3 separate regions of the Homo sapiens genome follow, and all the other regions are linked to region 3. Evidence: fine-mapped expression QTL. A gene starts in region 3. Each other region holds a variant in brackets. All regions are shown on one strand. Distances are between the middles of the regions.

Evidence for each region. PIP is the estimated chance that this variant, and not a neighbour inherited with it, causes the effect.
Region 1: its variant is fine-mapped to the expression of NCOA2 in blood mononuclear cells (TOPMed, PIP above 0.99).
Region 2: its variant is fine-mapped to the expression of NCOA2 in whole blood (TOPMed, PIP above 0.99).

The regions. Positions count from the first base shown.
Region 1 is chr8:70,187,869-70,192,868 of GRCh38, reverse strand. The region is part of intron 4 of NCOA2 (nuclear receptor coactivator 2); the gene reads left to right. Among named protein-coding and RNA genes, the nearest start is that of PRDM14, 120 kb to the right of the region's middle. The variant G/T (reference allele first, on the strand shown) is at 2,353.
Region 2 is chr8:70,217,119-70,227,725 of GRCh38, reverse strand. The region is part of intron 2 of NCOA2 (nuclear receptor coactivator 2); the gene reads left to right. Among named protein-coding and RNA genes, the nearest start is that of PRDM14, 150 kb to the right of the region's middle. RefSeq lists an enhancer at 8,145-8,194. The variant G/A (reference allele first, on the strand shown) is at 7,241.
Region 3 is chr8:70,398,628-70,409,234 of GRCh38, reverse strand. NCOA2 (nuclear receptor coactivator 2) reads left to right here and starts at 5,427. Exons shown (of 23, transcript NM_006540.4): 1 at 5,427-5,535. RefSeq lists silencers at 4,651-4,810, 5,501-5,810, 5,851-6,140, 6,171-6,830 and an enhancer at 4,911-5,030.

The DNA of each region.
Region 1 (5,000 bases), 210 kb after region 3:
TCTCGAACTCCTGAGCTCGTGATCTGCCCGCCTCCGCCTCCCAAAGTGCTGGGATTACAGGCATGAGCCACCGTTCTTGGCCAGGTCTCCATTTTTATTGATGTTAAAAAGAGCCCTCTTACCCCAAAAGGTGGGAACCACTGACCCAATGTTTATTACAAGGAGGGATACTATAGAGGCTAATTGATCAACACATCCATATATTTCCTGGGAAGATCTGTTCTGGATTTCCAGAGAAGCCTGGAGCATGGTTGCCTCTTCCTTCCTTTCTGCCCTGGTAGTGTCCTGGCTCCTCCCTTTGCAGGCCTCCACTGCCATGAAATACCAGGCAAGACTCTTAGGAGCAGAGGGGCAGGCCCGTGGGTGGTGGGGTTGTCCAGTCACAGGTGTATGCACAGGCTGGAAGCCAGGAGCTACTAAGGGCTCAGGCTAGCACAGTAACTCTTCTAAGACTCTGGCAAAGTTCCTTCCTTTACTTTATAAGTCACCTGCTTCCCATTCTGCTGTCTTCCTCTAGCCATCAGTTTATTTCTTTTTTTTCCCCTCCTCTGGTCCGCTGTAGCACAAAATTCAGGTTTTTATGTACAGTTGTCCCTGAAGCAAATGCTCAACTCTTTGGGGAGTAAGGATTGTTACTGTAATAACAAAGTAAAATAAGGGAAAAGTCACAAACTTTCAGCAAATCTTAAAAACTCCTACTAAATGGTATTCCACGTACAGATACAATTGGAAATGTATTCTTTGAAATACATGTAAAGCTTGGTTTCAACTCTCCCATGTTGTCTTCAGTCTTTTATTTTTTGTTTTTATTTTTATTTTTGTTTTTTGAGACGGATTCTCACTCTCTCGCCCAGGCTGGAGTGCAGTGGCACGATCTCAGCTCACTGCAGCCTCTGCCTCCCAGGTTCAAGCGGTTCTCCTGCCTCAGCCTCCCCAAGTAACTGGGATTACAGGCGCCTTCCACCATGGCCAGCTAATTTTTGTATTTTTAGTAGAGATGGGGTTTCGCCATGTTGGCCAGGCTGGTCTCAAACTCCTGAGCTCAGGTGATCCACCCACTTCGGCCTCCCAAAGTTCTGGGATTACAGGCATGAGCCACCGTCCCTGGCCTTTTCAGTCTTTAGAAACCCCTCAGTTTATCTCTTTTAATCTCACAGGAGATTCTCATGGGTCTCTCTCACTTCTATAAAAACATATCCCATTTGTGTATGTCTCTTTCTCCCTCTCCCTCCCTCTCTCTTCCTCCCTCTCTCTTCCTCCTTTTCTTAGAGACAAAGGCCACTGTATAGGTAAATGATGAGTCTTTTATTACATGAAGAATTAATGTAAGGTTCATCTCTTCAGAGGAAAACTCAGTCTAATTTTCTAGGAGCTCCCTATGCCAGAGGATATTCTAAGTGGGGGGACTAGGAAATGTGGGTGAGGCTATGTGTGCAGCTTGAGGAGTGGATAGAAATCCACCCTGTCTGTCTTTTGACTGGCATTATTTCAGTACTGAAGTGATTGTACATTACCTGGCTAACCAGGTGGACATTTGAGTTTTTGTTTACTACTTCAGTGGCTTCAAATTGATAGAAGTTTTATCTTTGATTTCTGTCTATTCATTATAGTAGTCACTCAGAATTGTAAGAATATACTCTCTGCCCATTCCTTGCCTATAGGACACAATAAGGCTATTTTCATATTTTTTTAAAGCACACAAATGATGAACAATTTAACTTTTTTTGAAATGACCCTTGGAGTGAGAGTGGGAGAAGTCATTCATGATGAAGCTGAAAGTTTATGGACCTGGTATCAGTGTTTGTAAAGACCTGCAGTATCAGATATTCTTGTGTCAAAGTCATGTACCTACCAGCTTCTCAATTAGTTTTCTTGCTGTTAGGTCCACTGCTTTTAGCTCCCTTACCAAAGTATCCTCCACAAATGATCCTTGATTTTTAGACTCCCATTCCCCTGATTTTTCTCATTTATAATGTAGTCATTTGAAGTTCATCTTCTTCCAACTTTCTTTTACTTTACTTTTTTTTTGGAGACAGAGTCTCACTCCATCGCCCAGGTGATCTCAGCTTACTGCAACCTCTGCCTCCTGGGTTCAAGTAATTCTCCTGCTTCACCCTCCCAAGTAGCTGGGATTACAGACGTCTACCACCACGCCCAGCTAAATTTTTTTTGTATTTTTAGTAGAGACAGGGTTTTGCCATGTTGGCCAGGCTGGTCTCGAACTCCTGACCTCAGGGGATCCACCCGCCTCAGCCTCCCAAAGTTCTGGAATTACAGGCATGAGCCATCACACCAGGCCTTACTTTCCTTCTTATAAATAGTTTATTATAGTAATTCGTCTGAAGAGCCCCT[G/T]AGGTACTTTCATATACTCTACTAAACCCTCTCTGTTTTTGGAAATCAAGGTTTTAATTGAGCTCCCAATCCATATTCGGATACGTGAGAGCAAAGATCTAAACACCAATGAGTTTTATTTAGTTCCATTCCTGACTTAGTGACTCATAGTTTCTTTAGAAAGGACAGATAGTATAACTCCTCTTTGTATAGATGCTTTTGTAGTTCCATGATTGTAGGTTTTTCTCTAAGTCTACCACTTAACTGGGTTTAGTTTTGAAAAATTAACAGATTTCTTTTTATTCCTGCAGGGTATGTTCTTAGCCTGAATTTTTGAGATTTGTAAGTCTAATTTCCTTGGCAATTGGATTTATCCTGAGAGGATAATATAAGAGATTATTAATCTTCACATTTTTATTTTCCAAAAATTTTTTTGAGCTGTTATACTTCAGAGAACTAATTAGGCCCTGTTAGCATCCTGAGGTGTATGTATTGTTCCTGGTGTGTTGATGGAAGTTTATTTTGAGTTAAGTAATCAGCTTTGCTATGTTCATTCTCTGATGAAAGCATTCTTAGTGAAAATCTTAGATAATTAGAGTCTTTCTTTATTCAGCATCCAGATCAATGCTGTTTCCTATACTCTCCAAACAAGTGGAGTCTTCTAGCTAAATAAAGAAAAACCTTTTTAATACTTATGAATTCACAAATTTCAAATTTAATTTTTCTTTTGTTCATAAATCCCTAACACTTTAATCACGATAATCCACTAACCCCATTTCAGCACTTGGCTTAACCGTGGCAGTGCACCCTAAACCCTATAAGAGGCAGAGCTTGTCTTTTTCATCTTTGCATTTCCACCATCTAATATCATGTATTTTTAAAAAAGAAAACATAAACTACTACTTCTCTAAAACAAAATTACAAATGAAAATTAGAGAGTAAAATTCCTCGTCCCATGTGCTTGAAGTTGCTGCTGTACAGCCTGTTCAGCCCACTTGAGGGAAACAGTGTTTTCTCCAGAGTGTGGGTCACTTGGGTCTACATGGTGTCTACATGGGTCAGCAGTTGCATGGTGAATAGAGATACACAGATGAAAAATGGAATTTCTGGCTCAGAGACTGGACAATCTTGAGGGAGTTCTGAGATCTAGATCAAATAAGACGATTTATATGATACAGTAAATGATATTATGGACATGTTGTGGAAGCACAGAGGGTAAACAGCTTGGATCCCCTGAAATTCTGAGATTTCCTTGAGAAAATGGCATCTGCTGAACCAAGAAGGCCCGTCACTATCCAGTAAATTCAGTGGCACCTAAGAGCCTAGCAATGCCACTTCAACCTGGCCAGCTCTGGTAGAGAGACACCCCAAATGAAGTGGAATTTAATGCATCGTGTTCCTTTGGCTGGGCGTGTCCGGAGGAAAAAGAAATAGGCATTTCCCATCCATAAGACAAATGCTGTTGGCAAAAAAGGAAGAAAGAAAGAAAAGAAGAGAAAGAAAATCCAGCATTATTTTAATTTGTTAAAAAGAAACAATGTACATTTGGTATAGTATTCATGTTTTATTCTACTGAGAGTTAAATCAGTTTTATCATTGATAACTGAAGAAATTTTATTACTGTTAATACTGACTTTGATTTAAAATTTATTAGTAAGAAAGCCATAGAAATATAACTAAATTTAATTCATAACAGCAATGTCACAAAATAATTTTAATAAAATATACTTTTCTTTCTTGTAAGTTTCTGATTCCATTTCTATTCTCTCACAAAGCAATATAATCTTTCTGTTTAGTAGAAACTTGTCTATTTCTTTTCATTTTGACTTAGCCTTATGAAGTCTGTTCATTCCACTTTTCAGACTGAAATGATTTCAGGTTTTTTTTGTTGTACAATTAAATTATTTAAGCTAGTTTTTATTTGTAATTTGTGAACAGGTCTATTAGATTTTTGCCATTGTAAGACTGCTTGTCATTATAAATGCAGAATAATATTATTACTTCCTGCCTTTCTTCTGTAGAGCTCAGAGTGCTTCACATGCATTATTTTATTAAGTCTCATAACATCCCTGTGAAGCAGGGCATTTTGCAAGTGATTATTTATTGCTTTGCTGAATCAGCATAGCCTTACGGCATTATGATAAGCTTGGAAAAGATTGAGGTCGTGTACTAACTTGCTCTCAGGAAACCCTATATGCAGCCAAATATTTTCCTTGGCAATACAGAGCTGACAAACTGCCACCATTCCATTCTCTGGGAAGCCCACTGTCCGTTGATGTAATTTAAAAACAACACACAATGCGTTTTTGAAAAAGCAAATCTAAGACAGTATTCAGTTTATTTGAGAAGCAGGTGAATTACATATGAAATGAGTACACCATCATCCTCGTGTCCAGGCTATCAGTCTACAAAAAAAAGGCTACCTTCTGTTCTTGCTATGGCTCTGAAAACTGGACCTGCCCAGCTGTCACATCAGTCATCTTCAGCCTCACCTGTAAGCCATCACCTGGCAGGCAGGATTTCCAAAAACAGGTTTCTTGGATTCAACCCATGCATCTGCATTGAAGCTAAGCTTATTGTTTCAAACTGCCACTGGGGGAAAAATGCCATTGGGTAGAACTTTTCTGAAGTCTTATGATAGTGTATTACTAAATTAGTTAGCATCTAGA
Region 2 (10,607 bases), 180 kb after region 3:
GTTTATTTTTATGAGATAAAATTGGTATCTTTTTGGAGCAGGGGAGCTTCTGTTAATCTAGAGCTGCCATTTTCATTATTAATGTCAACCATTGCCTCATAGCAAGTAGTGTTCAGAATAATTGTAATGATCTGACGAAGAGTAAGTTTTTAGGAATTTGTATGGTAAGAAAATGATTCAGAGGTCCCCCCAAACTAGATTTTTCCTTCTTGTTATTTTTTACCACTGTAGAAGTGTGGTGGAAAACAGAGAAAAGAGCATAAAAAGGTATTTCAGAAGAATACTTCTTACACACTCACCCTAGAAAGGAAGCATTATTTACACTGCCAAAACAGCCTATAACTGTGTCCCTTATTTCTTATCAAACCACAAGCCTTTATTAAATTTGGGTCCTGTACTTTTTTCATGCAACATGCTTGAAAGTTTTGCAGAGGCAAAACTGTGCTTTTCTGTTTGATTGAGGTAAAGAACCCACAGGAAAGTTTGGAGTTAAATGAGTGACAGTGGACAAAAGGGAAGAAGGAGTGAGTTTCTTAAGGCCCATCCCTGACAGAGACACTCGAGTGGGAGGCAGCAGCATGAGCCTGCCTGGAGCCCACAAAGGGCTGCCTCATGGTGACAGTGGGTGCCAACAAAACCGTGGACCCTCTCCTGGGAAAGAGGCAGCTGATCAGGAGGCATTTAAAAAAGTGTTACTTTCACTTTAACATACCATGGGCTTGGAAAAAGTAAAAGGGAACCTTTAATTCTTCCTGGTGGAATCTGTGAAGCCTGCGTAAAGGGAGTATGCTTTGAGCTGCTTTGGAAGGATAGACCAGATTTTTCTGAGATAGAAGGGCAATTTTAGTAACCTTTACTGGAAAGCTCTTGTGATTTAGATATATTTCTTGCTCTGAAAGAGTTGGTAGAAGAAAAAACATGAGAAGTCCATATAGTTAAAGAACATATGATATGCTAATGACTCTAAAATATCTAAGTATCTGTCTATATTATACAGAAGAACTTAGGATAAATATAAGTTTACCCTAAGTTTTAAGTATAGTTTTATATATATATATATATATAAATAATTAAAACATAAGTTTTAAGTATAGTTATACAGATTTAGTAGGTTGGAAATTGTTATAGAATTATCCTTTGGTTTACCAAAGAAAATAATTTTTACTTGAAATTTCATTGCTAATACCAGTAAAATGAGATTTGATTTCTCATTTCATTCATTGTAGGCAGTCTTTGTGCCACTTAGTACAGTATAGGTTTCCCTCAGTTGTTGCAAGATTTTTTCTGAAAATAAGCATGTAAACAATTCATACACTTACAGTTTATATTCCAAAGAGCAGGTTACTTTAAAAATTCCGTTTGGTTTGCCTAGGTTTTAGTTTGTTTGTTTTTCCCAGCAGCACAGTCAGCTTTATTTCATTCCTTTTCTTCTTTCTTTCTTTCCTCTCTCCCTCCTGTTCTTTCCCTCTTCCTTCTTATTATAAACTCACAAAAGTCTGATGTGTTAATGAAAGGGAATTTGGAAAATACAAAAATTAAATTACATCCGTAATGCCCATTGAAATAATTTAACTGCTAATATTTTGATAACTTTTCTGTTTTAAATTAATTTTTAATTTTTTAATTTTCTTTTTAAATTAATTTTTCTTTCCAAATTCACCATCAATTTAGATTATTTTATAAACATTTATAGTCTATTAAATTCAGATAACAGTTTATGTTTATTAAATAAGCCCTTACTATATGCCAGCTGCTCTTCTGTGCCCTTAACATTTCATGCTCTCAGCAAGCCTATAAAGGTATGTATTATTGCTCCAGTTTTACAAATGAAGAAACAAAGCTCCAAAGAGGTTAATTAAATAACTTGCCACGGGTCAAATATGTAGTGTTCTAGGGATTTCCAGCCAGAGTTGACACCAGAGAATGTGATCTAGGCCACAACATTGTACCGCTTTTCATATGATTAATGGTTGTATATTAAAGAAATTATATTATGAATCTTAGAGATCTGTTAGAAAGCTCTCAGATAACACTCATCTGAGAGGACTTTGCTGGCTACCTATGTAAAATAGTATCCCTCACCCCATCTACATTATACTCTCTTAATCTTACTGCCTTGTTTTTCTTCTCTTTTTCTTTTTCTTTTCTTTTCTTTCTTTTCTTTTCTTTTTTTTTTTGAGACAGAGTCTCACTCTGTCGCCCAGGCTGGAGTGCAATGGCACAATCTTGGCTCACTGCAACCTCTGCCTGGGGGGTTCAAGCGATTCTCCTGCCTCAGCCTCCTGAGTAGCTGGGATTACAGGCATGCGCCAACACACCCGGCTAATTTTTGTATTTTTTTAGTAGAGGCGGGTTTCACCATGTTGGTCATGTTGGTCTCGAACGTCTGACTTCATGGTCCACCTGCACCGGCTCCCAAAATGCTGGGATTACAGGCGTGAGCCACTGCGCCTGGCCCTACCTTGTTTTTCTTTATACCTCTAATCACTATCTGATGTGGTAAATATTTTGTTTGTTTTACTATTCCCCACCCTCTCCCTACTTTCCTGTTAGAATATAAGAGTCAGTGACTTGGTCTATTGGGTTTATTGCTATATTCTCCAATAACTAGAACCTTGCTTGGTGCATAATAGGTATTCACTAATATTTGTTGTGATCTGCATTCCCCCTTAATAGATCATGTCCTCTTGCTGCCGCTGTCTGAGAGTCTCGGGATGATGGGCAACTTAAGTACTCCAGTGGAGACTGAGACTCTGGACAGGAGAGGAGAGGGGTAGGGGAACAGAGGAGCAGGAGGACAGGGAGGAGCGGGGCAGGGAGTGGGGCACTCTGCGCCTAGCCATGATATTGTATGCCTACCAAGAGCCAGATTCTTGTTTCCTGGACAGTTTTTGCCAGTTGTACTTCTTATTATAATGACATAATTTAATTAATATATATGTAATATAATAAATTAATTAAATATATGTAACGTATCAAGTGTGAGTTTGAAAAGATACATTTGTTTCTGTGAAAACTAAGACTCAAAGTGAAATGAAGAAACATTGCTGCCAAATGGGTGTATAGGACACATAACACATGTCTAATAGACTGGGAAAAAATCATACAAATCTGCACCTTATAAGCACTTTTAAGAAATCTAAGTGTCTATAAGTTCTAGGTCTGTTTTAAATAAACAGAAATTGGAGAGTAGACACTGTTTTTATTGCCCACTATTTAGATGATAAATTATAGGTATAGGTATGATTTATGCAAGAAGGACACTGTGAAACTCCAGTGGAGACTGAGACTCAAAGTTACATTTATATGTTTAAAATTAAAAGGAAATTATTAAGGTGTAGTATGTATCATTTTTACAATTACCCTTCATAACTGACTTTTTAAATTAACCAATTACCATTTCTGAAACAGAAGAAAAGGCTTTTACTGTTTTAAGTGAAACTGAGCATTCTTGGTATGCCAGATAAAATTTCTAGTTGGTGTCTTATTTAATAGCTTCATAATAAATTCAGTAATAACAAAAATATTTGCTTATCTTCGGGGAATAATTGTGCATGAGCTGAGCATGACATCTTTTCTGCACTGGAATGTGAGCTGCAGGAGGACAGGGACTGTTAGCTGTTTTGTCATGACTTTCTCTCCAGTGTCTGCAGCAGTGCCTGGAGCATTAGTTATATATTGAATAAATGGATACATGATTCTAACATATGCACTGTTTAACAGAAAGAAGTGTTTTACATTTCACAGTGATACTGTTTTTAAGAAAAAGAAAAGTGCTTTCAAATTACATAGTCACTGTTGACTAAGTTAAAATATAGTGCTTCCTGTAATACATACTAGTTTATAAATTTCTCTCTTCAGTGAAAGTGTCAAAGTATAGGACCCTTTAATGCCCACATTACAGTGGTTAAGAATTGAGGAACTGTTTGGATTCATGAGCTCCAAGACTTCCTGTGTGGCCTTGTTCAAGTTACTTTATTTCTCGTGTACCTCAATTTCCTCATCTATACAATGGTGATAATCAGGCTGTTACAGGAACTAAAGGAGTGTATACAGGTAAAGTACGTAGAAAACGCCAACCAATGTAGAAACACTCCATGGATGATGGTTATTATCATTACACCCGTGATCTGTGTGACCTGTTAGGAAACAGGTCGGAGAGGTTAGATAATCTATAAGATGTATATATACATACATATCAAATTGTGGCTTTTAAGCAAGGAAATATGTGCTAAGTAACCTAACTCATAATAAGTCTTCAATAAATGTTAGCAAAAAAACCAAACAACATATTATGCTGTGAGAGAGAACTCTCATTTATTTAAGAACTGTTGACAACTCAAATGATAAAAACACTCTTTGTATAGGTACAGACTGTCTTGACCTTGCCAGTTAACTTTCTCAGGAATTAGAAAGTCATTTTTTAATCTCATAACAAAATTTAAAATGGGTTTCAGAATGAAGAAAGATAATTGAATTTTAGTCTGGACAAGTTATGAAACTCAAACACAAGTGCTACATTGTAGTCCTTGATTTGATGACTTCTTTCCAGAATGCTAAGCCTTTGGTGAAAACTGGTTTTCAGAATAATAAAAAGACACTGAGTACACTCTGCTTGAAGGGGAGAGAAAATGCTTACGTTATGCAAGGAATGCAGCTTCTTCCTGCGATGTTTTCTCATCTGAGGCCTCATTAAAACCTAGTCTTGCTATTCCTGGCCATATTCGCACCAGCTGACGTCGATATATAAGCAGTCCAGTAACTGGCTATGTTAAGGAACTTGGCCTATGAGAATTTAGAAAGTAGAAGCCATCATGTGCCACTGATGTCAGACTAGACATTTTCGCCCATGTTGGTAATGATAGTTTAGAACAGCTCCCTGCTACTTATGTATTCTGGCCTGAATTCTGCTAAGATAAGACTTTGAAGGAGGTTTTCCCCTTCTTTAGGACAGATGCAGATGATGGATATGTTGCAGCAAAATATTTGTGTAACCAGTGAACATGAATGTAGCCATTTATTTGATTATTGCAGCATGTGTTAAAGAGCTGCTACTGCCCATTTGCAGCCTAATGTGTTTATTACAGTCTTCCCAATGGCATCTTGAAGTGTCTTTCAGCTAAAAAATTCATGAGTATTATTGGCTTTCAGTCAGAAAATGGAATATGTCTTCTAGTTACTGTCTAATATACCACTTTAAGGCCATTATACAAAAGTAATCTAAGAGCAGACGATACTGAGAGGAAGGAATTTTTAGCTTAAACATTTGTTTATATACTGTTATTACTGTTCCTGGACTAAGACACAGCATAAGAGAAGGTAGGTGCTAAAGCCAGTTTACCTAGAGACTAGTTGTGGTTGCAGGATATGTTATTTTCTTTAATCCTCTACCTAACAATAAATGGCTAGTGTTTTAGTATTGAAAAATCATATCCTAATAATAGTGGTTTGTGTCTATCTTATTGTTATTTTTAAAAGGCAAATGTACAGTAAACTGCTCTAAACTAGTAAAGTTGAACTTATTTGAAAACAAATTCTAGATTTTTCTGGATTTATTTGAAGTGAGTCCTCTAAAACTTTGTAACTTAACTGTTGTTACTATATGAATTAATGTACAGTTTTTTGATTCTGTACATTAATCTGTAGATACAGACTATAGTATGTGAGGCAAATTAAAATTTTACTGTATGAAAACCAAGAAGCACTACAGTATTACGTAAAGATGACGTTAAAAGAGCCCTTATGATCTAGTAAAAAAGAGTAATGACACTTGGGAGGAAATAATACATAATTTTACTAGGTAAAAATTTTAAAAATATTGTGTCATGTCCTCTATCACTGTTGAATGCATTACTTGTTTGCCAATGGGAAGCAACGTTTGATTTTCTGTGCGCTGTCATCCCAGCATTTAGTAAATCCACATAGTTCTACTTCTGTTTTATTTGTCTGTGTGATGATTCTTTGTATGAATCAACATTATATCCTTGAGTAGTCTGTATATTTCCTGCATAGAATATTTATTCAACTGTTGCCAGAAGTTGGGATCTTGCCAAAATAATGTCTGCTTTGGGTAATTTCGACCAATTAACCCTATTTGAAAAGAGGTATTTCCCTTCCTCTAGCAACTGGATGTCTTCTGTATCATCTTACTGACTTCCCAAGTTTGGCCTACTTTCTTTTCTTTCTCAGGCATCTACATCCAAAAAGCACATTTTGTTTATTGAAGCATTAGATACTATGTTTTTTAGACTTATCAGAGCCTGGCCCAGAAATTTTGCTTTTATCCTTATAAAGGGATCGCTCTTGGAACACAGTGTACTTTGAAGGAGAAACTGTTACCAGTTTAGAATGAGCAAATGTTTTCATTTGTGATAAAGCAATAGTGGATGCAGCTTTAGCTGTTGAGGTGGGATTCTGAGAAACAGTGGGCTCTAAAAGATTATCCTTCTGTAGTTTAGTTAAATAGAAATGGAAGGGTATTTAAGTGAGGTTTTATGTATACTTTTAATATTGCTTGAGCATTTCTTGGTTTTAAAAGTTTGTAAAGGGTTAGACTACATATTACACAATTTCATATGTCTATCGTAAAGAGAGCTCAGAAGGAACCTCGGAAATCTCTAAGTCTTTCTGTTCTCATAACAAGAGCTAGATGATTTATCAGGCAGGTCCTCTTCAAGTAGACATTCATAAGAGAAGTGGTTTCAGTAGCTCTTTCTGTGTCGTTTCTAACTTGGGGAATTTCAGAGAAGGCCTAACTTTAAGAACATTTATTGGAGCTAGCAGTCAGGATCAGATGTTCGATCACTTTATTATGTTTGGAGTTCAGCAGCAGTAGTATCCTTATTCTTTAACTGAATTTGTTCTGTATATAATGCATCTGGCAGTTTTACAAGCCTTGTTTGGAAGATAGGCTGTCTTGATAAAAGATAAAATGCATATTATCGTTTACATAAATTATGGATGATTAACAAGCTTTAATGGTATGAGGTTGTATTGAGAGCAACAGCTTTGTTACCTTATAAATTATATTGGTGAATTCCATGAAAGTACATTTTTGAATTGTGTTGAGGTTTAACATTTTATTTTGCTTTCTGTCATTATGCTAAGGATTCAACTGGCTTTGTTCACCCCTCCCAGAATATTGTTACTTTTTAGAGATAAAACTTACTAATCGTAAGGCTATAACTCTTCCCTACCGTCTAGCTCATCCAAGCTGATATCAAGGGATGTAAGGGAGGAT[G/A]TATGGTCACTGTGAAAACAGGGCTATTGTGTTGTTACAGATAACAAGAATGGATGATTTGAAACTTTTTTTTTCAGACTTGTCCTTTCACAACCCCCAACATCTGGTAGAAACTGGTTTGCTCTCAATGACTGTAATTACCATCAAATACAGCCTGAGAGTTTACTTGTGTCATTTTCAGTTTTTGTGATTTACGTTAAACAGTTTCAGCATTGAGAGTGAGATGCTTAAGAATTTTAATTTCATGTGAGTGTGCAGAAATTATAAGAAACTATTAATTTAGAGCTGGTCACCAAATGAAATTTTAGAACCTTCAGTGCTGCTCTTTAGTATTTTCCATCTCCTACCTTTACACTGGAAATGAATTTTTTAACTTCGATCTACAAAAGTGCATAAAAATTCCTCTGTCCATAGAGTTTATTTTAGATATTTCTCTATGAGTGACTATACACTAGAATGTACATTTGTATAGAAAAAGTAATTTATATAACTTAGAAGAAAGTCGTTTTTATAACTTATCTATCTCTCTCTGGTTTTTATTTGTGTCACTTCTGCATTGCCCAGTATTTTGAGTTGGGGGAAAAATGAACTCACCTGGCCCCACCTCCTGTTCCAGTGTGAAATACTGACACTTGCTGCCAGCCCAGCCTCCTCACATAAGCATTAGAAATATCAGACAGTCCACTAGGTTAGAGCACCTCATTCATGAGGTTCTGTTATTTATTCGGCTCTCCCACTAAAATGCAGGGCATAAATTTATGTGTCTGCTCTAAGACTGCAGCTGTCTGCCCCCCCTCCACCCTCCTCCTGCCCTTCCTGTGTCAGTGTTACATTCGCTCCCCCCACTTTTGGTCTCAGGTCTGTCTCCTTTTTGTTTTTATGGGTGATTTGCAGTGATTCAGACAGGGCATCCTTGCATGTTGGCACTTCCTGGAGGTTACCAGGAGGCAGCCATCCTTCCTTGGCTTGGCCAGGCATCCCCGACTCCACCCCACTTTCCCCTTGGTGGTGGAAAGGTGGGTTGGAGGTGTGTACTGGGGCACATAGCCCAGGAATGTTGCTCTGAGAAGAGGACATGTGCAGTAGACACAAAAATATAAGGAAGCAATTATGTTCATCAAGCCGAAAGTTGCAGATTTTGAGGAAATGTGTTTAAGATACCACTACATAATAAAAGGGAAAACCACTTGGCATTTAAATAACTTACTTCAAGAGGAAATTATGATATTTTCAGTCTACAAATAGAGTGGTTTTTAAGCCAACCTTGAGTAGGTACAAGCAAATTATAAACAGTCTGCTCAAATGATTTTACTATACTTAGACTAGAAAATGGCTCCTCTTCTCTCTCCCTCTGGTCCCTATGTCCCAGTGCTGTCCCTCATATGTTACAATTGTTCGTGTATGTATTTTAGAATATTCACAGGTAAATGATGCAAATAATATATATATAATGTTAAATCATCCTCAAACTGGGTGTATATGACTTTAGGTAAAACAGTTCCTTACTTTAATTGTCTGTTGAAAGCTTTCTGATCTTTCTGATAATACTATACATTTTAGTATATGTGGCATTGCTTTTGAGGGGGGGAATAGCCATTTTAACAAAAAAACTTGTCACCTATACCTACTATATAGGGCATTTTGCTATGCTGTATATTGAAGGCTATATTGTAATGATAGAAACTTTCTTAAGTTTGTATGACTTCTAGAAAGCTGCTTTCAGAGTGAAAATCTCCTAGGTCATTTGTTGAAAGGTTACTTAGACTGGATGTGTAATGTTTTTTCTTACATCTCATGATTGAAACCATGGGAATTGTGATTCAGAGAGAAGTACTGAAAGTGAATGTCTATAAGGTATCATCTGAGAAGGGTTCTGGAATTTAGGGTTTTGTTGTTGTTACAGAGATGGGATCTTGATACGTTGTTCAGGCTGGTCTCCAACTCCTGGTCTCAAGTGAGCCTCGCATAGCTAAAAGTGGTGAAGCTTGGACATGAATACTGGCCCTTCACTTCTCTGCTATCCTGCCTCTCATAGTCTGCCTCTCTCATAGTAAATAAATACAGATTATACTTATTATCAGGCCAAAATTGTGACCACAGTGTGGGACATTGGGACTTGGTTGCATTGCTCTAACCAGCAAGAAGCTTGGGTATCAGCTTTGAGAATTATTCCCTTCTGTGTCACCTCTTGAATCAAATGTGTACCAGTGGTGCAGCCTCCCTAAACGGATACAGTATTTCTTCATTCTGCTTACATATGACTCTTTAAAAAAAAAAAAAAAAAAACTAACTCCACTGCGCTATTGTATCAGAAGTGGCGAGAAGAAATTATTGTAGTACAGCTGAGACTGGGCAGCCCAGATTACAGGGAAGAAGTGGCCTGGCGGTTTGACTGGTACGCGTTATGTTCCTTAGCCCTCCTTGCTCTTTGTCCTTACTCTTGATTGTCCTCTGTCATCTTCCTTAAGTTCTCTGTCTTCTAATGCACTTTACCTTCCCTTTGATTTTTTTTTTTTTCTATCCAGAAAAGAAAAGAAGCCACTACAAAAAGTAAAGGAGGGGCAAAGGTGATTTAGAAGTCTGGGGGCCAGAAGGAAGGGGAAGTAGTATCGAATAGGAGCTCTAGGAAAGACTTTAAATGCAGATTTCAGCTTGTCCTGCTGCATTGTTTTTTCTTTTGGTAAGCAGTTATTGAACACCTTGAGTAGCAGTCTTTTATGGTTTCCTCACAGTCTTTGTAAGTCTCTTTGTTTAGCTCTTTCAGTACGTAAACCTCTGTCACTGGCTTGTTCTTGCTTACCTAAATATTATTTTGATTATGTTAGTGATGACGAGCACACTGATTTTCTTACATTTTTTTTTATTTTCTTACTGAGAGGAATTCAGCAAGCAGGAGCTGATCATGGTTCTTCCCACTTGGGGGTCAGTAAAGTTCCCCTGACTTCTGGGGCATATCTTAAGACCTTTGGCGTTAGCAGCCAGAACCAGCTGAGGGAAGGAAAGTTTGGAGGCGGCAGGATGTGAGAGAGGAAGTGACCATGCTGTGTGCAGGGAGGCGAGCTGCCACAGAGAGAGGGCACCGATGGAGGAGCAGCCAGGCAGCTGCTGCAGGAGAGCCAGGCACAGGAGCTTCCCGAGGGGCCAGGAAGATCCCCCACTAGGGGGCATTGATTAAGAGGCCTTGTGCAGGAACTCGGGGCTACAGGGGTGTCAGATGTACCTAGTTAAATTTGAAAACCTTCAATTTCGTGTCCTGGCACTGGCTCTTCCCCGGGCTGTCTGTTGTGGGTGAGCTGTTGCAGCATAGACTTCACATTGGCTAACCCAAAACAGAGACTGGGAGGAGCCCCTTACAACACCTGTAGTT
Region 3 (10,607 bases):
ATATGTATTTGCATATAATTTTTAGAATTAGACCTCAATTTTTACTTAAAAAGCTTGCTGGGATTTTGATTGGGATTGCATTGAATCTATAGATCCATTTGCTAAGTGTTGACATGTTAATACTGATGACATCTTAATACTGTTTTTTAAAACAGAAATGGAGTCCTTTTGCCCATTTCTGTTGCCCAGGATGGTCTCAAACTCTTTGCCTCAAGTGATCCTCCCACCTCAGCCTCCCAAAGTGCAGGGATTACAGGCATGAGCCACTATACCTGGTCCCATCTCTTGTTTTAAAAATTTAATGTTTTGGTCTGGCATGATGGCTTATGCCGTAATCCTAACACTCTGGAAGGCTTAGGTGGGCAGATCACTTCAGCCCCAGCAGTTCAAGATCAGCCTGGGTAAGACGGTGAAACCCCATCTCTACAAAAAAAAAAAAATCCAAAAAAAAAAAAAAAAGCTGGGTGTGGTGGCACACACCTGTATTCCTGACTATTAGGGAGGTCAGGGCTGCAGTGAGCTGTAATTGTGCCACTGCACTCTCCAGCCTGAGTGACAGAGTAAGGTCATGTCACACACACACACAAAAATTAACTTTTTAAGAGACACAGTATTGCTATGTTGCCCACGCTGGTCTACAACTCCTAGGCTCAAGTGATCTTCCCGCCTCAGCTTCCCAAGTAGCTGGAACTACAAGCATGTGCCACTGTGCCCAGTCTATTTCTGTTTTTAGGCCATTGTGAATTTCTATTAGCAATATTTTTTTCTCAATGTAGAGATCATGTGACATCTTTCATTAAATTTATTCCTGAATTTTGATTTTTAAAATGCTTTTGTAAATGGCATTTTAAAATTTTCATTTTCCAGTTGTTTCATGCTAACATACAGAAGAAATACAATTGACCTTGTACCTTGTGATCCTACATTCATTTTAGTAGTTCATGGATTCTTTTGAATTTTGTACGTACACTATATCATCATTAGTGAATAAGTTTGGTTTCACCTCCTTCCAATTCATTTTCTTGTCTTATTGCACTGATAAAATTTGCAGAGATGCCAAATAACTTGCCCAAGTTCACCCAGTTAGTAAGAGCCAAGATTGAAACTCATGTCAATCTCACTCAGAATACCCTGGAATGAGTGTGGGTGTATTAATATTTGTTTTTGCTTGAGAAATAAGGGAGGTATGAATAGAGGGGGAGAAATAAGGGAGGTATGAATAGAGGGGGTATATCAAAGAGGTTCTTAATCTAAGATGAAGGATTTGAATTGTATTCCATAGTTAATGAAGGATCATTAAGTGTTTTCAAGTGGGAAAGTAACAAAATAAGACTGAGGGGATCAATCCTGTGACAGTGTACAGTATGACTTGAAGGGAGCCCATTCATTCATTTATTCATTCTTTTCATGATCATTTATTGAGTATGCATTATGTTCTAGGAGACAGAGTCTTGCTCTGTCACCAGGCTGTAGTGCAGTGGTGCGATCTTGGCTCACTGCAACCTCCGCCTCCCGGTTCAAACAATTCTCCTGCCTCAGCCTCCCAAGTAGCTGGGACTACAGGAGCGCGCCACCACACCCAGCTAATTTTTTTTTTTTTTTGTATTTTTAGTACAGACGGGGTTTCACCATGTTGGCCAGGATGGTCTCAATCTCTTAACCTCGTGATCTGCCTGCCTCGGCCTCCCAAAGTGCTGTGATTACAGGCGTGAGCCACTGCGCCCAGCCAATGTGTTTCTCAGAGTAGTAGAAATACAAGTGATGAAGAGTAGAATCCTAACACAATCTTAGATATGCAGCGAAGGCAGTTCTATGACTTTGCATTAATTTACTTGAAGTCTCTGAAGCTCAGCTTTATTGTACATAAAATGAGAATAATATACATACAATGACTACTTCAGTAAGGAAAAAATTTATGTAATATGCTTGACTTATATTAGACATTTGTTTATTGTAGTTATACTATTTAAGGGATTTAGAAGAGAGCAAACAATAAGAATGAAACATTTCATCACAGTCGTTCAATAATCAAATTGACAAACAAATGTTTTAACTGACGCCCCCACCCTATGATTACATTTTAATAGAATGAACTATAGATTTTTGCTTTGGCAATTTAGGAATGCACCAAAACAGAGATAACTGTGCTACATATTAGCTGACATAATAATATTCCCTTACATCTGTATAAAGAGCTTGATAGTTAACAAAGTACATTTATTTACACCATTTTGAGTCTTGCAACAATTACACAGATGAGGAAATTGCGATATTTAGTGACTTGTTTGAGGTCACACAGTAACTTACAGAGACCACTTCACATCATATTTATTTGCTTATATTCTATAGCTCTTTTTTACCATACTGTTACCTCTAATCTCATGATGTATGCTAGTAGTATTAACTCAAAAATAGTATAGAATCTCCCACTTTTATGCAGTTTACTTATGAAAAAAGTGAGTACTTTGAAAACTGTGGAAGAAAAGGCAGACAAAAATAGAAATTCTTGTCTTGTAGCAGTCATATTGTTCTGATTATTCCTAGGTTATATTGTTAAATATATAATTTGTCATTTTCTTTACTTTTCCATGCTGCATTTATGATTCTGCTGACATTTTTGGTGTTTCCTTGCCTCATCCATTCACGGTATGTTATTTCTACTTCCACTAAATTTCAATAATTTCCTTCCCCTTTATGATCTGCACCCACATATTTTTTCCTTGTTGTTCTCTCTTGGTAATATACCTAGTTCCTATATCTTTGCCTTCTTTTTTCTTTCCTTCTTCTTCCTTTCTTAATTTGTGTCATTGAGCCAACTTATTTACCGCCTCCTCTACCTTTTCATTTTACATTATCATAGTGATGATTCACTAAAAATTATGGCTAGTTTTAATAAACAATTGTTCTGAGGTCTCATGGGAATCAAAGTTCTTTCTAAGTATGGAAGATGTTTTTTATAAACATGTTTTATGAGCAAGGGATTGGAAGATGAGGTGGGGAAGAGGACATGAGGATCGGAATAGATACTATTATTTATATTTCACAAATTCAATGAAACAACAAACATCATACATTCCTTGTTAGGTGCTATAGCATGTACAAACAAGAACAAGACTAGGTCTTGGGCTCTGTTGCACTTACAATCTAGTGAAAGAGAAAGACAAACATATAAACAACTCTAGTGCAAGACAGACTACTGTTACAGCAAGAGCCTGAAGTTCAGAGGGCACCCAGAGATTGTACCAGAGCGCGTTTAAGTCACACAATTCAATTCAAGCTCAGGCAATTGAGTAGCACTTGGGCATGGAACTCATCTACTATGCTGTCAGACGTTTTTGTTTATTTCTTGTAAGAAAAAGTCTTCAGCCGTCGTAAGACGTTTTATTGGGTAATACGGGAATGCAATGGGGGGAGTCATTTGTTTGCAGAGGTATCATGGGTAGTTTTAAAAAGTGTGAAATCTACGATTGCAGAGGACTGATAGACTCTGGACTTCTGCCAAAATGGGAGGGATAGCAAGCAAGAAGGAGAATCTTTTTTTTAAATTTTTATTTATTTATTTATTTATTATCACAACTCCTGATAACTCACAGTTGGGGGTGAGGACAGGAAAGCAAATCGGGAGTTCAGAATTGTGACAAACCTCAGGTGACTACTACCCCATTGTAGACAAGCTACAGACTGGTATTAGCAGAAGATAGGCCATAAACAAACTCTCCATTTCCTCTCAACGCTTTGGGAACATAATTCTATTATTCCAGCTAGCTAAAAAAAAAAAAAAAAAAAAAAAAAAAAAACCTTTAAAAATATACATTAATACATAGTCAATGCAAACATTTCAAACATTAGATAGGTGTGCAAAATAAAAAGTGGAAGTGCCTCATCACCCACTTCTTACACTCCCCAGCGCTAACATTTGTTGTTATAGGCTTCCAAGCATTTTCTATCCACAAACAAACACAGACACACACACCCCACACATTTTTTTTATTCTTTTCCCAAATAAAATTGGCGGTACACCCACAAATTTTAGGATGAAGACATGTTTAAAAGCATGGGCTTTGGAGCTCACCAGAACTGGGCTCACATCCTCTCCAACTACTGGCTGTGACCCTGGGCAAATTACTTTAAGCTTCAATTTTTTGTGTGAAGTGAAAAGCGGCAATGACTTCGGAAGGTTTGAGGATTAAGGCCTATAGCATATATACATCACCTAGCACAGTCAGATTCACAGTAAGTGTTCAATAAACACTCTTATTGTCTACCGCAAGTGACCTTTCTCATTATAAGATTAAAATCAGGGAATATGTTCCTCTCATAGTTTGATAACTGCCATTAAACAAAAGTTTTTTTTTTCAACTAATTACCGTATAAGTTGGAAAAAAAACTTGCTTTTCCAAAGCGTAAAACAGATTGGTCTAAGTAACACTTAAATGGGGGTTCTCGCATTTTCAGTGCCAATCTCCTACGTCCCCTCAGTACTTTGTTCACGGATGTCTAGAGAATGGACTTTCCAATACAAACTTATGATTTCATGATGTGCCGAAAATTCTCAACCAGGTTAAGTTTCACACTCTGTGTGCAGCATTTGCTTTATCCCGCAATTGCCGGGTGGTGCCCCTTCCAGCTCCCACAGTCGCGCCTCTCCATCCCCTCTGGAGCTAGGACTGCAATGGGAGAAGCCTCTCCCTGTTGGAGCCGTAGGGGACTTGACGGATGCGGGGCGCCTCCGGGGAGCAGCGGCAGGACCGGGAGTTGGGTAGGGTGAGGTGCGCCCGAGGGGGTGCAGGGTGCTGGCCGAAGGGTCCGGCCGGACGGGCGCGAGGGTCCTCTGCTGGCGACCCTGGAACTCGGCTCTCCCCGATCTTCGTCCTGGGGCACCGTCCCTGCCGTCTGCAGCCCCCAGGCCCCACTGCCTCTAACTCAGCGGCCCAGGCCCGTCCCAGTCGCTAGTTTTCTTTTTGGCATTGCCCTTTGCCCTCCCATGCAGTCCTCTGTTGACTCTCTCTTCAGTTCCAGTCACCTCTAGGTCACCCTCCCTCTACCACAGTCACCCATTTTGTCCCCTGTCCCCTTACTCTTCTTCACCTCTCCCCGGGCCGCCTTCTCAGAGGACTCTGCCGACGGAGATGCTGCGGACCCCGCGGCCAGGGGCTGCTCCCCGGACAACCCTGCGTCCACCTTTGCCCCTTCCTCGGGGGCGCGAGAGGCAAGTTTCCGCCCCGTCCTTTTCCCGGTGACAGGACTTGGCGGCGGCCACTGCCGGGGAGGCAGAGGGAGGGACGGCCTGGCTCCCGAGCCCCCTCCCCTGCTCGCGAGCTCGCGCTGTCTGTCTCTCCGCAAGTGCGGAGACGCGGAGGAGGAGGAGGAGGAGGAGGAGGAGGAGGGAGTTGGGGGAGGATCTCCATTGAAATAAACAACCAGGCAGCAGTTATTAACACGGGAACATGGCGGCCGCAGCCTCGGCTACAGCTTCGGCGGCGAAGGTCAGCGCCGACGGCAGCCGGCACCTGACGGCGTGACCGACCCGAGCCGGTAACCGCGCCTTCCCCCGGGGCCGCGAGGGCGGGCGGGGGGCGGGCGGCAGGCGGGGGGCGCCGCGTCCCCACCCCCGGCCGCGACTGCCCTTCCTGCGCCGAGCTCCGACAGAGCCGTGCGCCTCCGAGAGGCTGTTTTTGTGTGCGGGGACCGCCGCCGGAGTGCGCGGAAAACGGGAGTTGCATCCCGGAGGCGCAGCGACGCTGGGGAGTTGGGGCTTGGGGGTGGGGAGGGCGGGAAGCGACGGGGAGACGCGGAGTCCCCGGGAGAGAAAGGAGGCGCTCCAGCGCCTTGCGAGAGCTCAGGAGACGAGTCCCGGAGCGCGAGGCGGGCGGAGGCTGCAGCCCGCGGCGCGGGCGAGAGGTGAGCGCCGAGGCGCGGCCGGGGGTGCGGGCGCGGCCCCCGCCCCGAGGAGCGAGTGCCCATTGCCCAGCCCGGTGCGGGGTCGGCGGAGACCGAGGCTCTAACCCCTCGGGGGCAGCGCGGCAGAGCCGAGAAGGTGAATCCTGGGAAGGTGCATTCTTTAATGGAAGCGCGGAGCGGCTGCAGCGGAGAGTGGGAGCCGGGCGAGGGGAGGCAGGACTCGGGAAGTGCTGGGGGTGTGTGAAGGTGAAGCGGGGTGTCGGGGCGGCCGGCGAGCTGCAGCGCGGGGCGGGGAAGGGGAGCCGCGGCCCGGCGGGTGGCCCGGGCCCGTGTCAGCCCCGGGGGTGGGGGGCGAGGGGCGCCGAGCACCGCGGGCGGACGGGAAGGAGCTGCGGCGGGCGGGGCGGGCGGCGCGCTGGGGCCGAGCAGGCCGGGCCGTGGTGGGGGCGGGGAGCCGGGGGCCGGGCCCCGGCGGCGCCGAGCCGGGCTCGCCCCTGACTGAACTTTCTGGGTGCGGGCGTGTATGCAGGAGGCGCGCTGGGGCCGGGGCCGGGGGCGGGAGGCGGACCGGGAGGTTCCGGGTTGGCTCGCCAGCGCCCCCTTTTCTCGCCCCCTTCTCTCCGCCCCTGAAGGGACAGGCCCTCGGGGCCCCAGGCGGGAAGCGGGAGGGGCCCTGTGGCCGCCTCGCGACGGTCACGCCCCGGGCACGGGGACCCGGCCCTCTCGGGCCCCTGGGGGGTGCTGGGGGAGGGGGCCGGGGTCGTCGCTGCCGGCTGCGCTCCCCGCCTCCTCCCCTCGGGGGAGTCCCAGAGGCGCCTCTTCCGAGACCGGGGGTGGGTCGGTCCCTGGTTAGATGGCCCCTCCCTCTTCCCCTCCCTCTAGTGGTTTCCGGGGCCTGCGGGACCGAGGGGCGGGAATCGGGGACTGGAGCCCCCTTCCGCTGGCCCGGAGCTGGACTGGGCCTCCCGCGTTCTGGGTCCGTCACTGGTAGGGGAAACTTTCCCAAACCAGAGACCGAGCCTGAACACCTTCCTCCGCCACCTCGTCCTCTAATCCCACTCCCTCTCCACCTCCTCCGACGCCTTCCCCTCCCACCGACCCGAATCTCGGTGCGTCTGACTGATGGGGCAGTGAGCCAATCGAAGGCAGGGAGCTGACCTGCCGGGTGTCGGTGAGCCAATCGTGCGGACCGGAGGAAGGAAGGGGGCGGGGTTTCTCCTGACCAGTTAGAGCAGAGTTGCATGCGGGGCGGGGGAGTCATGGAGACGCTGAGAGCCAGCTACTCTTGTCCATCCCCGAGTCACCCGCTCCTTGATTTCTGGGGTTGTGTCACTTATAGGGGCTCCGACCCGCAGAGGCTGCCGAGGCACTCGAGGTCCTGTATGTCTTTCGTACCGAAATAGACGTTGTCTTAGACACGACGAAGTCTAAAGCCACTTTAGGATGTGGCAGTAACTCACCGAGGCCGGTTTCTAAAATGGCATATGCTGTAGTGATCATGTCCTGGACCTCAGCGTCCGGTTTACATGCTAAGGGTCACAGAAGACAGAAGTTACCCGTTTACCTCTTATCTCGGTTTCACTCAGCTATGCCAGAATGGGGACAATGAAATTTGAAAGGGAACCCTGAGAATGAAGGCATGGGAGCAGTATCACGTCAACTGATTATTGGTAGTAGAAAGCATCATTGTTCATAATGGCTTCACTGGTTTCTTGTTTAATTAGAGCTCCAGTTCCCAAAGTGTACTTGAAACTTCGGCATTGGGGATGTCATTAAAAAAAAAAGTTGTGGTTTATGGTATGCATTTTTTTTTCTTTTTGCAAACAAAATGAAGTTGGGAACTAAAGCATCACTGATTGAAACATTAAGTGTGGGTATTTAAGGAGCAAAGCTAATCAAAGAATATTTGTCTACAGGAAAAAGTCTGAGTAAAATGTAGTTTGCCAGATTACTCCCACACAAAAGATTCTTAAAAATAATTTTAATTTTCTTAAACACTGCTGAATTGTACAGTGTGTGGGTACTTTTCTGGTTTATACAAGGTTTGGAGACATCTTTGGTTTTAACTGTTTATTGCGCGTTCAGTCAAGTGACTTTCTCAACTCTTGACTTTTAGGAACAGAGGTCTTTGATTCTCTGTAAAGATCACAGGTTGCTCTGCAGGAATAGCAGTCTTTTAAAAAGAAAGCAGCTGCTACAAAGCATGTGTGTGTGCGCGTGTGTGTGTGTGTATGTGTGTGTGTGTTCCTGTTCTTTGTTGGTGAGGTTAGGCACACTGACAGAAGTAATGCTCCCTTTCTCACCTGGAATTTGTAGAATCTTTGGGAGCTCAAAGAATGAAAAGTGTTAGATTAAGAATGAATTCATTGATTTTTGTCATAAGTATCCCATGAATTTAATTTTGGGAGTGTTTTCTTTTAGGTATCTTATGTGGAAAATGTGTATCTTTTCTATAAGTCAAGCTTTTATTAATCTTGGGTTGCTAAGAAAGAATCGAAGGGGACTGCAGTTCTAGGGAACAGTATTTGCCAAATCTTACAAATGTGTTCTGTTGTAATATAGTGTTTTCAAATTTACCATGAGAATTCCCAATTCAGGATCATTTTGGGTGCATGTAGACAAGAATTAATTGCATTTTGCTGTGGCTCTTGAGATGTTTTTTGTAATAAAATAGTAAAAACAGAGAAGGTAAACCAAACACTTAGACTGACAGAGAGGTAAGGAGTATTAAAAACAACATTCAAAATTTGACAACATTCAAAACCCCCCACCATTTGTTAATTTAGTTACTTATGGGCACTCTGACATATGCCCTTCTCTCTTTTGTATGCTGAAGAGCAACACATTATTTTACTTAATTCTTTGCAACAATCCTTGAAAATGTGGTAAGATTCTTGGTGGCAGAGAGAACCAAGTCTCCTAATGGCTGGCTTGGGGGGAAAAAAACCTCTCAAGCATATGGAGACATCTAGAAAAAGATGTGCATCGTCAGCTGTGATTCCATTGTGTGCTCTCAGACTGGATCTGAGCTTCCTTCCTCCTGGGAATTTCAGTCTTAAACAGAGGAGTTCTTTGACTTTTAGATGTCAGTATACTGAAGCAGGAGGGTAGAAAAGGAGCTCACCAATTACGGATTTATTATGTTTTGAGTAGTTAATATGTTTTGGATTTTAACCCTTCATTGGTTAAATATAATTTAGATGAGTGGCTTAGTGTTAGAAGAGCATTTTATTGGAAATATAAAATGTAAGGCTTGGAGGGGGATTTGGGCTGTGGATAAAGGGGTAATGCTCCTTAGTTGTCTTTATTTATAGTTGTATCTTATTAAAGCTTTCCAAGCTTCAGTAACATCAAGGATCTGTGAGCAGTCCTTCCATTATATGCCCTGTATTTAAGGATTCAGTACCGTAGCTGTTTCAAATTACATAAGGTTGAAATGTGACCCATAAGTTGACAGCTTGGATTTCTTAGGAAAAATTGTTTGTGTTGTATTGAGTTGAAAAGCAATTCTTTAAGCACTCTTTAGGATATTGGATAGTAAAGGAAAATACAAAAGGGGATGGTCTCTTTAAACAATTTTTCTGAAATGCACAGCATGTGCCCTCATTTGATATTTTGGCCATTATTGTGTCATGATCGAAGTTATATTTAAAAGCCAAGTTAATGCTTATTTATTGTTATGAAAAAACTGCTATTTAAGAAATTACTAACTTTAGTATTTTGCGTATGTAGTTTTGTTTAGTAATGTATGTTATTACATGCTTTATTGATTTTAGATTAAGAGAATAGGAGGGAGAAAATAAGTCACTGCTTTAAGGTATTGGTCTTTTATTGCAGCAAATCATAAAATCAGCAACAAATCAGGATCTTTTTCCATAGTATAAGAATAAGACTATAGTTCATACCAAAAATGAAAGCCATTTAAGGGAAAATGGAACAAAACCTTCAGTTTTTTTGTACCCTTTCATATTTAAGGCTAATTTTACCTCTCTATGCCTTACTTTTCTAAACAAACAAAAAAGGTTCTAAGTGTTTGTGTTCTAGGTGTTTGTGTTTTTCCTTTTTTGTTTTTAAAGGCTTCTAGTAGGGCTTTATGAATTGCAAGCTGTAAAAAGAATATGTCATATTACTCTCTAAAGTCTATTACAAGTAATGGCTGGAAAAGCTATGAAATACAATTTTAATGTTGCAGACCTTCAATTCAGACATCATAAAGAAAACACATCTTTATGGATTCTAGATGCTAATTTCTAGATAGAGGTGATCACGAATGTGACTTTTGTGGGTATTTTAGAAGCTGGTGTAGTTCTCTTAGCTGTGGTAAAACATTATGAAAAGGAGTGGAAATCTTAAGGATAAACTATGAAGGCAACTGAAATTAAAAGACTAGGTGGTCTGTAGGTAGATCCTAATACTGTTAGCTTTTAGGGCAAAGATTTTATGTGTTTACTCTATGAAATGTTGATCAATGACCACATTTCTGGGTCCCCATGGCTGTGATGACATAATGCAATTGTGGAAATGTTGATTCCAGGATAATTTTCAGTTGGTTCTCTGGTTGGAAATTTCTAGAGAAGAATTAAATGACAAGGGAACCTATGGTGGTGTTTTACATAGCTGTTTTTGAGGCTTTGGACACAGAATCATATAGGTAGAAGTTACTCGCAACTGGTTAAATGTTCTAAAGGAAAAAGAAAACATCTTTA